Regions from separate parts of the Homo sapiens genome. Here region 2 is linked to region 1. Evidence: fine-mapped expression QTL. A gene starts in region 1. The other region holds a variant in brackets. All regions are shown on one strand. Distances are between the middles of the regions.

Region 1 (5,000 bases):
TCGAAAGTTAAAAAGTAAATATTTCTTTTGTATTTTTTATACAAGAATCCAAATCCTCAGCAGAAAGGTGCCTTGGATTGATTAAGTTGTATACCCAGAAAGTGACATTAATACACTTCTTGAAACATTACCCTTTCCGATTACACAAATATTCTAGCCGACAAATCTGATCATGCTAATTTCCTATTTAAAGCCTTTTTAATAATTTCTCATTCCCTTAAGATAAAATCATTTTGGAGATCTTCCTGACCATCTAACCTAGGTTATAAACCTCGTGCGTGCTTCTACAAGCTCCCATACTTCCTCTTTCTTAACACCCATCCTACTTTTACTTTTTCAATATATATCTTTCTTGATAAATTTGAACTCCAAATTTTCAACACATAGCACAGTGTCCTGGACATAGGTGCTTCATAAATATTTGCATGAGTTTGAATTAAATGCATGTCGTATTTCTTACTTGAAAATCAGTAAATTGTTATTCTAGTTTACACAGTTCCTTTTTTTTGAGATTTATAAATTTGAGACTACTCTAAAAAATGAACCCACTGTTGGGCTTACAATACCAATTTCTAGTTCTACAGAGCCAGGCTTTCGAACACAGAAAATTCACCAGTAAGTACTTTCTTGTCATATCCTTTGACAGGTAATAATTTACCCTCTCCTTGGGGACACCCCTACCTTAAGACAAGAATTCTTTCAAACTTCAAAAACATCCATCTTCATTAATAAGTTCATAATGAAGACTTTTCACTTTAAGATGCCTAATTATCTTTCACAGATATTTATGAAATTTCAATTGTGCCAAGATTTTTCACAGGCTTATTTTACTTTAAGCTGGTCCTTCCATTTATTGAAGCTTCAATTAATTAGACTTCATCATGTTATAGCTAAATGGATGTGACTAGAAAGAGCAGCATACAGACATCTATGTGTAAACTGTTACTTGTTGGTTAACATTTATGTTTGAAATGGAAAATCAATAAAAGGGAACTTATATTAATTTATAAGCACATTAAGAAAAGAGGGGACACTATTTTTGATCCCAAGATAGCAACAAAACTAAAAACTTTTCCAAAGAAGCAAACGGGAACAGAGGTCAATAGGCTGTGACCTCTATTTTATGTTTAAAACGTTTGCACATCCACTAAGTGCACTGCAGAATCTTAAATGCAATTAAAATCAATGGGCATACAAGTTATAGAGTAGCTTGAGGAAGCACAAGTCAATCTTCATTAGCTATTGTAGCAAAGATTCCTTCCAAATCCATGGGAGCAGGTGCTGTTTATACTCCCTTCATTGACGCCCAGAACAATGGCATAGGGTGAGCATTGAATACTTATTTGCTACGCGCATGAATGAATGAAGCTACGCTGCGAAGGCAGACTGCGTGGCTGCTGGTCCCGTGGCTGCTGGCCCCGCAGCATGTCTGCCGCCTTTTCAGCAGGCTTGCTGCATCTCCTCATTCCCTCACCTTTCTGGCAGTAAGGAGTTCCCACGTTTGCCCCGCTTCAGTGTCGTGGACTGGCAAAATGCTGTCTCTAAACCCCTCCACGCCTCAGGTAATCCGCTCATTTCTCACACAGACGCAGCTGTTTCCGAGGAATGTCCGGCCGAGCCCGCAGGGTGCGGGCAGCGAGTATCCTGGGACCTTCAGGGGAGGAGGTGGCTCCCACACCCCAATACCGTACAGAGAGTCCGAAGAGTCCGGGCCCTTATTTTTCCAATTCTTGGTAAACAACAAACATGCTCGCCCTCGCCTCCCCGTGCAGACGCCTCAGGGCCAACTCGGGCTTCGCCAGGCACCGAGAGCAGACAGAAGACGCCAAATGGCTATCACCAGGAGAGAGGGCGAGGCAGCCGCGCGGCGTATAGCGCTCGCCCTTCCCGCGCGCTCGGTCGCCCGACGCCTCACGCGCGAGGTTGCCTTGGCAGTGGCTGGAGGGCAGGTGGGGGCGCGTGCGCGCAGAAGGGCGGGGGAGGGACCACCGCGCGCCAGCAGGTGGGCGCGTTCTCCCGCGCGCGTGCGCGCGTCGAAGCCCTATACATCACGTTCCCCGAGAGCAGCGTCCCCTCCCCGCCGGGAGCGCGCGCCTCCCATCCTCGCGCCGGGTCCTGCTCGGTCTCTCAGAGCCGCACACTCCGCGGAGCTCCTGCCACAGCCGTCGCCTTCGCGGCGGCTCTCCAGCCCCGCGCCTCAGCCTCGGCGCCGCATCACCGCGTCCCAGGCCTCCTTCCCTCCCTCTGCCACTCCCCCTCCCTTTCCCGCTCTTCTTGCCCACCCGGCCGGCAGAGAGAGCCTGGATACGAAGCAGGCGGGCTTCAGAGTGGGTTGGAAAAATGGAGGTGCCGCGCCTGGATCATGCCCTCAACAGCCCCACCAGCCCCTGTGAGGAGGTGATCAAAAACCTCAGCCTGGAGGCCATTCAGCTGTGCGACCGGGACGGTAAGAGCGGCCGGGACCGCGAGGAAAGGGACAGAGTTCGCGCCGAGGCGCCGGGGCCACTCTGGCTCCGCCGACGCCGCTCGCCAGGGCGGCAGGGTCTTTTGTTGTCCCCTCTGTGCAAATAAATGCAGATGTGGGTTACCCTCCGCCCACCGCCCTCCCCTCACCCCAGAAACAAAAGGACCCCGGGGCTCGCGCCTTGGCGCGGAAAGTAGCCGTCCACAACCGTGGCGCCCTTCGCCGCCTTCGCCCGCCTGGCCCGGACGAGGGCGACGTTCCCGCTCGCGGCTCCTGCCCCGACGAGGCGTTTCCGATCTTTGCCGCAGTCCGGATTTCCTGGGTCTCTGGGCACTGAAGGGGAAATGCCCTCGGGATGTTTCTAGCAACCCCCTTCCCCCAACACACACACACTAGTTGGCATTCTCTTCCAGAAACTTATCATTTTCTTTTTTAAACCTCCCATCCTCAGACTCCCCAAATTAACAAGTCTTTTTAGCCTCTTGGATTGGGATTAGGATGACAGTTTTTCAGTGAGGGCGCAGAAAAACAGTGCATTTCAGCACCAAGGACAGACACAATCTTCATGGTTCCTGGGCTCTGAGTCAGACTGTCGAAAATATTGGCCTAATATATGTGCTGTGATTCAGACTTTGTGGCGAGTACGTACCATTGCGTGTTGATATTATATCGTTTATTCTGTTGTTGAAGTTGGCAGGCTCCTGTGGAAGGAAATTGATTGAATACAGGTCTGAGCGTTGAAGACATAAGCTAGTGCTGTGTGCGGTGTGGTTAGTTACAGTGCTTCTGGGTTAGCTGGACTAGTTAGAGTCTGCTACTTTAGTAATGTGGTACAAAACTTCATTTGTAAAGAAATCATTTGATTAGTAATTGGTTGGCCGAATAATTGTAAAATTCTACATCTGACAAAGGAAACACAGTTCACATGTTGTTAAGAGGGCCCCAAATACTTTTGACTGTAAATGAAATTAATGTTTAACTGTATATAGAGGTAATGATTGTAAAACATGTCTTTAACCAAAGTTATGTACAGATACTAATACGCTCACAGTAAGGTCATAAAATTTATCAGCCTAATCCAAATAGGGAGCAGAGGTCTTGTTTCCAAAGTCATTTAAATGGTAATCACTTGGTTACGCATTGCTATTCAGCACGTTTATATCAAGCAAGCACCGAATTTGTTTATTACTAAATTTTATATTTATTAATATAAATTTATATTTAATAATTTTGAAACCAGAATTCAAACTTTTTGAAACCAAAACCACTTTAATTTCTGATACAGGTGTAGTATATGAATAAATAAATACGTTTGCAAAGACAGCTTGTATTTCCTTTATTCTTAGACTGTTTTAGTCACCATGGTAGTAAGTGCACATATTTATGGTATCTAAAAACATTTATCATTTTGGTATTCCATATGTAAGCTTGCATGATTATAGACTGTAAAGATTATTTTTAATAACGCATAGGAAGTCATTTGGATTTTAGTTTAGACTTTTATGAAATGACTTTTTGTAATGTAACCATTGCAAGTTGTAAATATTTTTATTTTCTTAGGGTTGAGAGAAACACAAGACTAATAAAAGTAGACTTCATTTTTATTTATTGCAATGATAAAGCAAAAGCTCATTCTTGTACTCAATGGAATTAGGCATTCATTGTTGCTCTTCAGAACCCAGTAATCTCAATACTTAAAACCGCATTTACCACGTGTTTCAAAGATATTAGGGAAAATTTAAACTTTTTAATGAAGTTCACAGAGTTAAGAGAGTGCAAAAAATAATGCTGTATTTACTGTGATCCCCTAGAGGAGTAGCTATTTTATTCTGGTATTATTTTTTAGTTGTTTCTTTTCAAATTAGGAATCCCACAAAATGAACAAATTATGTAACATTTAATTTTGGGGAGGGTGCTGGCACTAAGTAACATCTATGAAAATTACTATTTGCAGACTTCCAAGTAATTTACATAGACTAATTAAATAGGGTTTTATTTTATAAAATAGTATACACCAACAAATACAAAGAGCTAACTCTTCTACTAGAAGATGTATAAAATTTGGAAATACTTTGTTTAGAGATGTTGTTAAATGCTTAACTTATTTTGTTATCCTATCTTACATGTCAATTCCAAAAATATTAACTTGGTTGGCTTCAAAGGGATAATTTAGGGGGAATAATGTCGTTTGTTTTTAATAGAACAGCATATGAAATGTTGCATTAAATTTGTCAAACAGACCTTACTTAGCATCATTTTGTATTGAGAGATTTTCAGCTAGTTGCTTTTTACTCCCTTTGCTTCCCTCCTTTCACTTTCTTTCCACTCAAGTCTCGTTATTTTACTTCTGTAACTATGTAACATAGAAAAGGATGTGGCAGAATATGGGACAGAAGATCTATTTTGTGTTTAAGTACCTAATAAGAGCTATATTTCATAATTTATGATAGAATACATTTATTTTGTTTGCTCTTTTCTCACTTTCTTTTAATCTACTGTTAATTTGGTGATGAAAAAAAATGAGAGAAACATTAAT
Region 2 (5,536 bases), 68 kb before region 1:
AAGTCTGTAAGGTGTGGGTACCTGAGTGAGTAAAACTAAAAGCTGCAGAAATTTAAAGGGGGAGAAGTCAATGAAGGCTGGAATGCCCAAGGGTTCCATGGCAGAAGAGGGAGGTAACTGAAGATTTAGAAGGATCAGAAGTCAATAAAGGCTGCTTTTACTTTTTCACATCAACTTGGGGACATGTTTTCAGGAGTATAGAGGGCTGCTTTCAGGAGTATAGGAGACACTCATATGCTTGTGGCCTGAATTTTCAAGACTCTACAAAAGCTTTCTGAATGCAATTTGTTGTTTACGTAAAGTTTCAATTCTCAGAACAGCTCTTACAGGTACTGCTATTATTTTCCATTTAAGAAACTGACACTTAGAAAGTTAAGTGATACCTTTAAACATGCTATGTCTGCAAGTGCACACTGGACTTGAGAAAACAAGCAGGCAACCTCTGAGGAACAGACATTCAGGCCAGTTGTCAACATTTCTCAGAAAAGTCAGTGCTCCCTTTTGCCATTTTTTGTCTCTTCCTAGGTCAGTGAGAAAGGATGAACTTCTCCATAAGTATCTGGACAAAGTTCTAATAGCCTAATCCCCAGTCCAGCAGCCTACAACCTCCTTTGCACAAAACATTGAAATCAATTCTTGAATATTTATGTGTTCCTCTTGGTGAGATCCTGGAATCTCATTTCTGCCCATTTTGACACAGTTTCTTCCCTATTGGCCCTAAGAGATTTACACAAAAAAACAAAAAGGCATTTGAATTAATGTGCATTTTGTCTCCTTTCAAGAGTATAATTTTTTTTTTTTTACCCAAGGAGTTTTAGGTATTTAGACTTTCACTTCTGAAAATCACATCTTTGCTACACTTGTCAAAAAAAACTCATTAACTTTCCCCAGTGGAAAAGTTAGAGGCATCACATGTTTATTTGAAGTCAAAGTTTTATTCTAACAGAGGACACTGCATACCATATGCTGGTTGGCTTGAGATCCTTTTTTGAGGGATCTGACTGAACATTGACCCCAATTACTTGCATTTTTGTGCTTCAGTGCTGCTGTTTCAGAACAAAAAGCAATAACTAAACCCTACAGAGAAGGCTTTATAAACTTTCCCAGTGAGTCTACAACTCATTTCTCTTTTTCTCATGGTCACCGAATTGATTTTTCCTTGTTGCTTGTACATGTTGTTCAATTATAGTGAATTGACAAAATCAGATGACAATCAACTGTCAGATAACTCAATGGAACTTGAGGGGAAAACACAAATTTTTAAGCCTTCTCCATTTTCACATCTCGGCCTTTGGCTTTCTTATTAGGAGAGCTCATCACCATTTTTAGGTTGTTCTATTAGGTTGTTTTGATTTTGCCATTTGTGAGAACATATCAGTTGCCACCATTAAGAGTAATATGTAAATTGGTTCAATATTCTATTTTAGGCTACCTCTAAACCATAAATGGAATAATTGTTTTTTTCAGGGATCCTTTGGAATTGATCTTGAAATCAGGCCATTAAAAAAAGAAAAAACCATGGGTCCTAGATAGTGGATCAATGTGACTTTTAGGAATCCATTTAAAATTTAAAATAGGAGGCCTAAATTGACTCTAGGAGGAAAGTCTCAAGAAAAAAGAATGGAAATGAGAAATTATCTGACAGGTTATATTTGTGGACAATTCTATTGAAATGCTGGCAGCTATAGAATGTAGAAAGACGTAGGTGTAAATACAGAGAAAACCAGTTCTTTAAAAAGACGTAATAACTTTAGGAAAAACAAAAAAAAAAATACACATTCAAGAAAGAAAGTAAAATTATAGACCATGACTTAGCCCAGCGGTGAATCATATTGACATAGTTAAATAACATTAAATATAAAGTTATATAGAAACATGGAGATAGATACTAGAAGAAACAGATATTTGAAAGTAGTTGCTTGAAAGAGTAGATTTAATGTTGCTGGGGATATGGGGGCAACTGTTCTTTTTTAGTGTAAGCTACTTAGTACTTTTCAAATACCATACCTGTATGGTTTTGATAAAAATAAAAATTAGTCATTTAAAAATGTTTACATTTTTAGCCTTTTTAGTGTAAGTAAAAGCTTGGCATGCTTTCCCCAGTGTTTTGTGGAGCAGTGCTGAATGGGGGGATGGCTTTTTAGGCATATATGAATTAGAAAGGCTTTGATGTGTTTGGCAGGATGAAGGAAGAGCCTTTGGACAGGGTTCTGTCTGGACAGGCCCTGGTCAAATTTTGTTTACAACCCCTTTTAGCTTTCATCCCTTTCATCCTGCCCTGATAAATAAGGAAAGAGACTTTCATAAAACTCAGAGAGTTGAGTTCTGTGTGCTCATTTGGGATGCTGAGCTTCTCCTTACCATTGTTGGCTATTGGCCCAAACATATTTCTCATTTTGAAAAATGTTCCTCTGGGCTGCCGGGGTGTGCATTGGGCTTGTGTTTAAATCCTACATGTGTCAGAGCATCTCACTGGATCTAAAACCTTTGGATGAATAGTAAAACAAGAGGCTGAGAAATCAGAACATATATCCAAAAAATGAACTAGTATTTACCCTGAACCCTTGTCTATGAGCAGAAATGCTCTGTGCTTTTTAATTTATTCTTATGGCAATTTTTCTCTCAGTTTGCACAACAGAACCCAAAGCAGCATGGTAAGTATGGGTTAGGAATTTCATGTGTGTGTGTGTGTGTGTGTGTGTATATGTGTGTGTGTTGCCTAAATATTCATTTGCTAGCTCTTACATCATGGCTAATTATATCAGGCATCCATGTTCTGGTCATGCCTCAGTCATTCAAAAAGCAAAAATATTTCTGGGACTGGCAACTAACACAATTGGTCATTTGAGTTGAAGTATGTAACTTTTTACAATATTAAAGATGTGGAATTGTTTATACTCAGGTTAATAATTAAGGGAGAAACACATTCCAGCTCAGGGTCAGATTAAGAAGGAACATGATATA[C/T]GTTTGGGAAAAGAAACTAACATTACTTAAGTGCCTATTCTGTACCAGGCACTTTACATACATTATTCTATTAATTCCCACAAAACCTTACATTATCTTTCTTATTTTAAAGATGAGATATAGAGAAGTCATTTGACTTTTCTAAGGACTCTTAGCTAGTAAGTAGTGAAATTTAAATTTTAGTGTTTTGCTGCGACAAAATTGGAGAGAATTTCAGCAATTTTTATTAACAAAAACCCACCTACAGCAAAATCATTTGTGAAACCCGTTAAAAAGTGGAAATTGTGGGGCTCCACCCAGATATACTAAATCAGAATTTCTGGAAGAAGTGCCAGGGAATATCCTGTGTATCTTATGTACCCCAAAATTTGAGAGCCATGACCACAGTATAATTGCAAATTATGCTCTAATTATTTTGCAGAATGCATTACATTATCCTGTGATTAAACCTTCTTGAAGCTCAGCCTTATTTTATAACCTATTACTTCTCAATCCCTAGGGATTTGGTCACAGTTTCTGAAAACTCTGTATAAAAGTTTCTGAAAAGTTTCGGTTTCTGAAAACTCTGTATAAAAAATATATCAGATGATTAAATTTTATATTTAAGTTGGGCCACAAAAAAACTAGCATTTTTTCTTTAGACTAAGTTTATGGGGTCATGATACAAAACAGTGGCAGAGTAGGAAAAACAAGAGCTAAGAAATGTTCTATGTGTGTGCATTTATGGCAAAACCACAACTGTTCTGCATCTGTTTACTGTGGTTTCTTAATGGTTGATACTAGTTTAACTGAAACATGTAGATTTTTCCTCGCACTCATTCTGAGGGATTGATAGTTGTGTTCTAATCCTCCCAAAGCCTGCACCTTTCTTGGCAGCCCTTAGGCATAGTTTATCCCTTGAACGGCTTTGAGAAAACTGAATTAATGTTCCCAGAATCCTGGGAAGGTTATTGCCAGAGATTTAATTAAAGATAAATAGAGATAAACGAAAATCAAGTACAAAACTACATTAAGAAAACATGAGAAAGGGGAAGATATGAATGGAGAATTTGTAATGGCTCATTTTTTCCATAAACCCAAATAAATGGGTCATGCCGTAATACAACAGAGCAGAAATGACAGGATAAAAGAGATGAGGTCAGTTTATGCTCTTCCTACAGTGTCCCTTACCAACAACAGAAACATGTTTATGTGGAGAGGTATGAGGTATGGATTTTTGCATCAGAGTTTGCTTTTTCTTTGATAATAACTCAGTGCATCCTAAAATAAGAGAGTCCACGGTTAGGAGTTCAATCTAGGATATTTATTCTGAGTTTAACAAATATTTATTGAATGGCCTCTATATTGAAGCCTTTTAATTTTGAAATACTGAACTCTCAGAGAAGTGAGAAGGCATGAGTTCTTGCTCCGTTTAGTTGTGTTACTTTAAGCTGGTCACTTATTTTTTCTGATGTTCAATCTCTTTGTGAAAGGAAGCATCAAGCCCGATATTTTTTTAAGTCCTTCCTTTCAAGCCCAGTGAGTCTGTGTCTGCATTTACAATCATGCCACAAGGAAGGTGAAATTTTTCATTGGTGGCTTAGGAGATTTTGAGGGAGGTTGTCATAAGTTTGTCTAAATTACTGAAGGATCACAATTGCACAGATTCTTAAAGCCAACATTATAGTCATTATTTTTGGATAATATTTTCAGTTAATATGAGTCCAATCAAGGTCCCTACTTGGCATCTGCCTATTTCTGAGACCAATTATTAAAGTTTGTTGTTTGGCTGATTAAAAAAAAAAATGCTAATGCTGAAGGTGCAAAGTGGAGAGGAGAAAATGGTAAAATATTTGCATCCTGATCACGCTGAGGTGATATCTTCTATGCATACTATTGTATTCCACTTAGTTTTTAAGCTTCATTGAGTTTTAATTGACATACAATAAACTATACATATTTAAAGTACACAACTTTATAAGCCTCGACATATGACGTATGTTCACACATCCAATACGATCTATGAGTCCATCGCCACAATAAAGATATTAAACATATGCAGCACTCTAAAAAAATCTTTATGCCTTGTCCTTCCTTTTTGCTTCTCCTGCCCACAATACCCTTCTCACCTGCCCATCTGGCTGCTTCCAGGCAACCATTGATCTGCTTTCTGTCACTATACATTAGTTTGCATTTCTTAGAATTTTATGTAAATAAAATTACACAGTATGTACTCTTGATTTTCTTCTTGGTTGTTTCAAACCACACAATTACTTTGAGACTGTCTATATTGTTTCATGCATTAAGAGTTAATTCCTTTCACTGCTAAATAATATTTCATTCCGTGAATGTAACATACTTTGTTTATTCATTTACCCATTGATGGACATTGGGGTTGATTTCATTTTGGGGCTACTACAAATACAGCTGTTATGAACCTTGGTACATAAGTCTTTGTATGGACATATGCTTGCATTTCTCTGGGATAGATAACAGGGAGTGGAATGGTTTGTTCATATGACAGATATATGTTTAATTTTATTAAGAACTTCCAAACTGTCTCCCAAAGAGGTTGTTCCATTTTATATTTTCA

Which allele goes with the higher level. Positions count from the first base shown, and alleles are read on the strand shown. Sizes are in standard deviations (SD) of each study's normalised expression.
For the expression in pancreas of the gene that starts at base 2,130 in region 1, C is the high allele of the variant in region 2 and T is the other (moderate effect, 0.73 SD a copy in GTEx).

What was found. PIP is the estimated chance that this variant, and not a neighbour inherited with it, causes the effect. A credible set is the group of variants that fine-mapping cannot tell apart.
Region 2: its variant is the best candidate, but not a certain one, in a credible set for the expression of PHYHIPL in pancreas (GTEx, PIP 0.68).

What each region holds. Positions count from the first base shown.
Region 1 is chr10:59,174,514-59,179,513 of GRCh38, forward strand. PHYHIPL (phytanoyl-CoA 2-hydroxylase interacting protein like) reads left to right here and starts at 2,130. Exons shown (of 5, transcript NM_032439.4): 1 at 2,130-2,446. The coding sequence starts at 2,341. It overlaps CCEPR (cervical carcinoma expressed PCNA regulatory lncRNA), which reads right to left and starts at 1,951. Exons shown (of 1, transcript NR_131782.1): 1 at 1-1,951.
Region 2 is chr10:59,106,293-59,111,828 of GRCh38, forward strand. No RefSeq gene overlaps it. Among named protein-coding and RNA genes, the nearest start is that of CCEPR, 67 kb to the right of the region's middle. The variant C/T (reference allele first, on the strand shown) is at 2,965.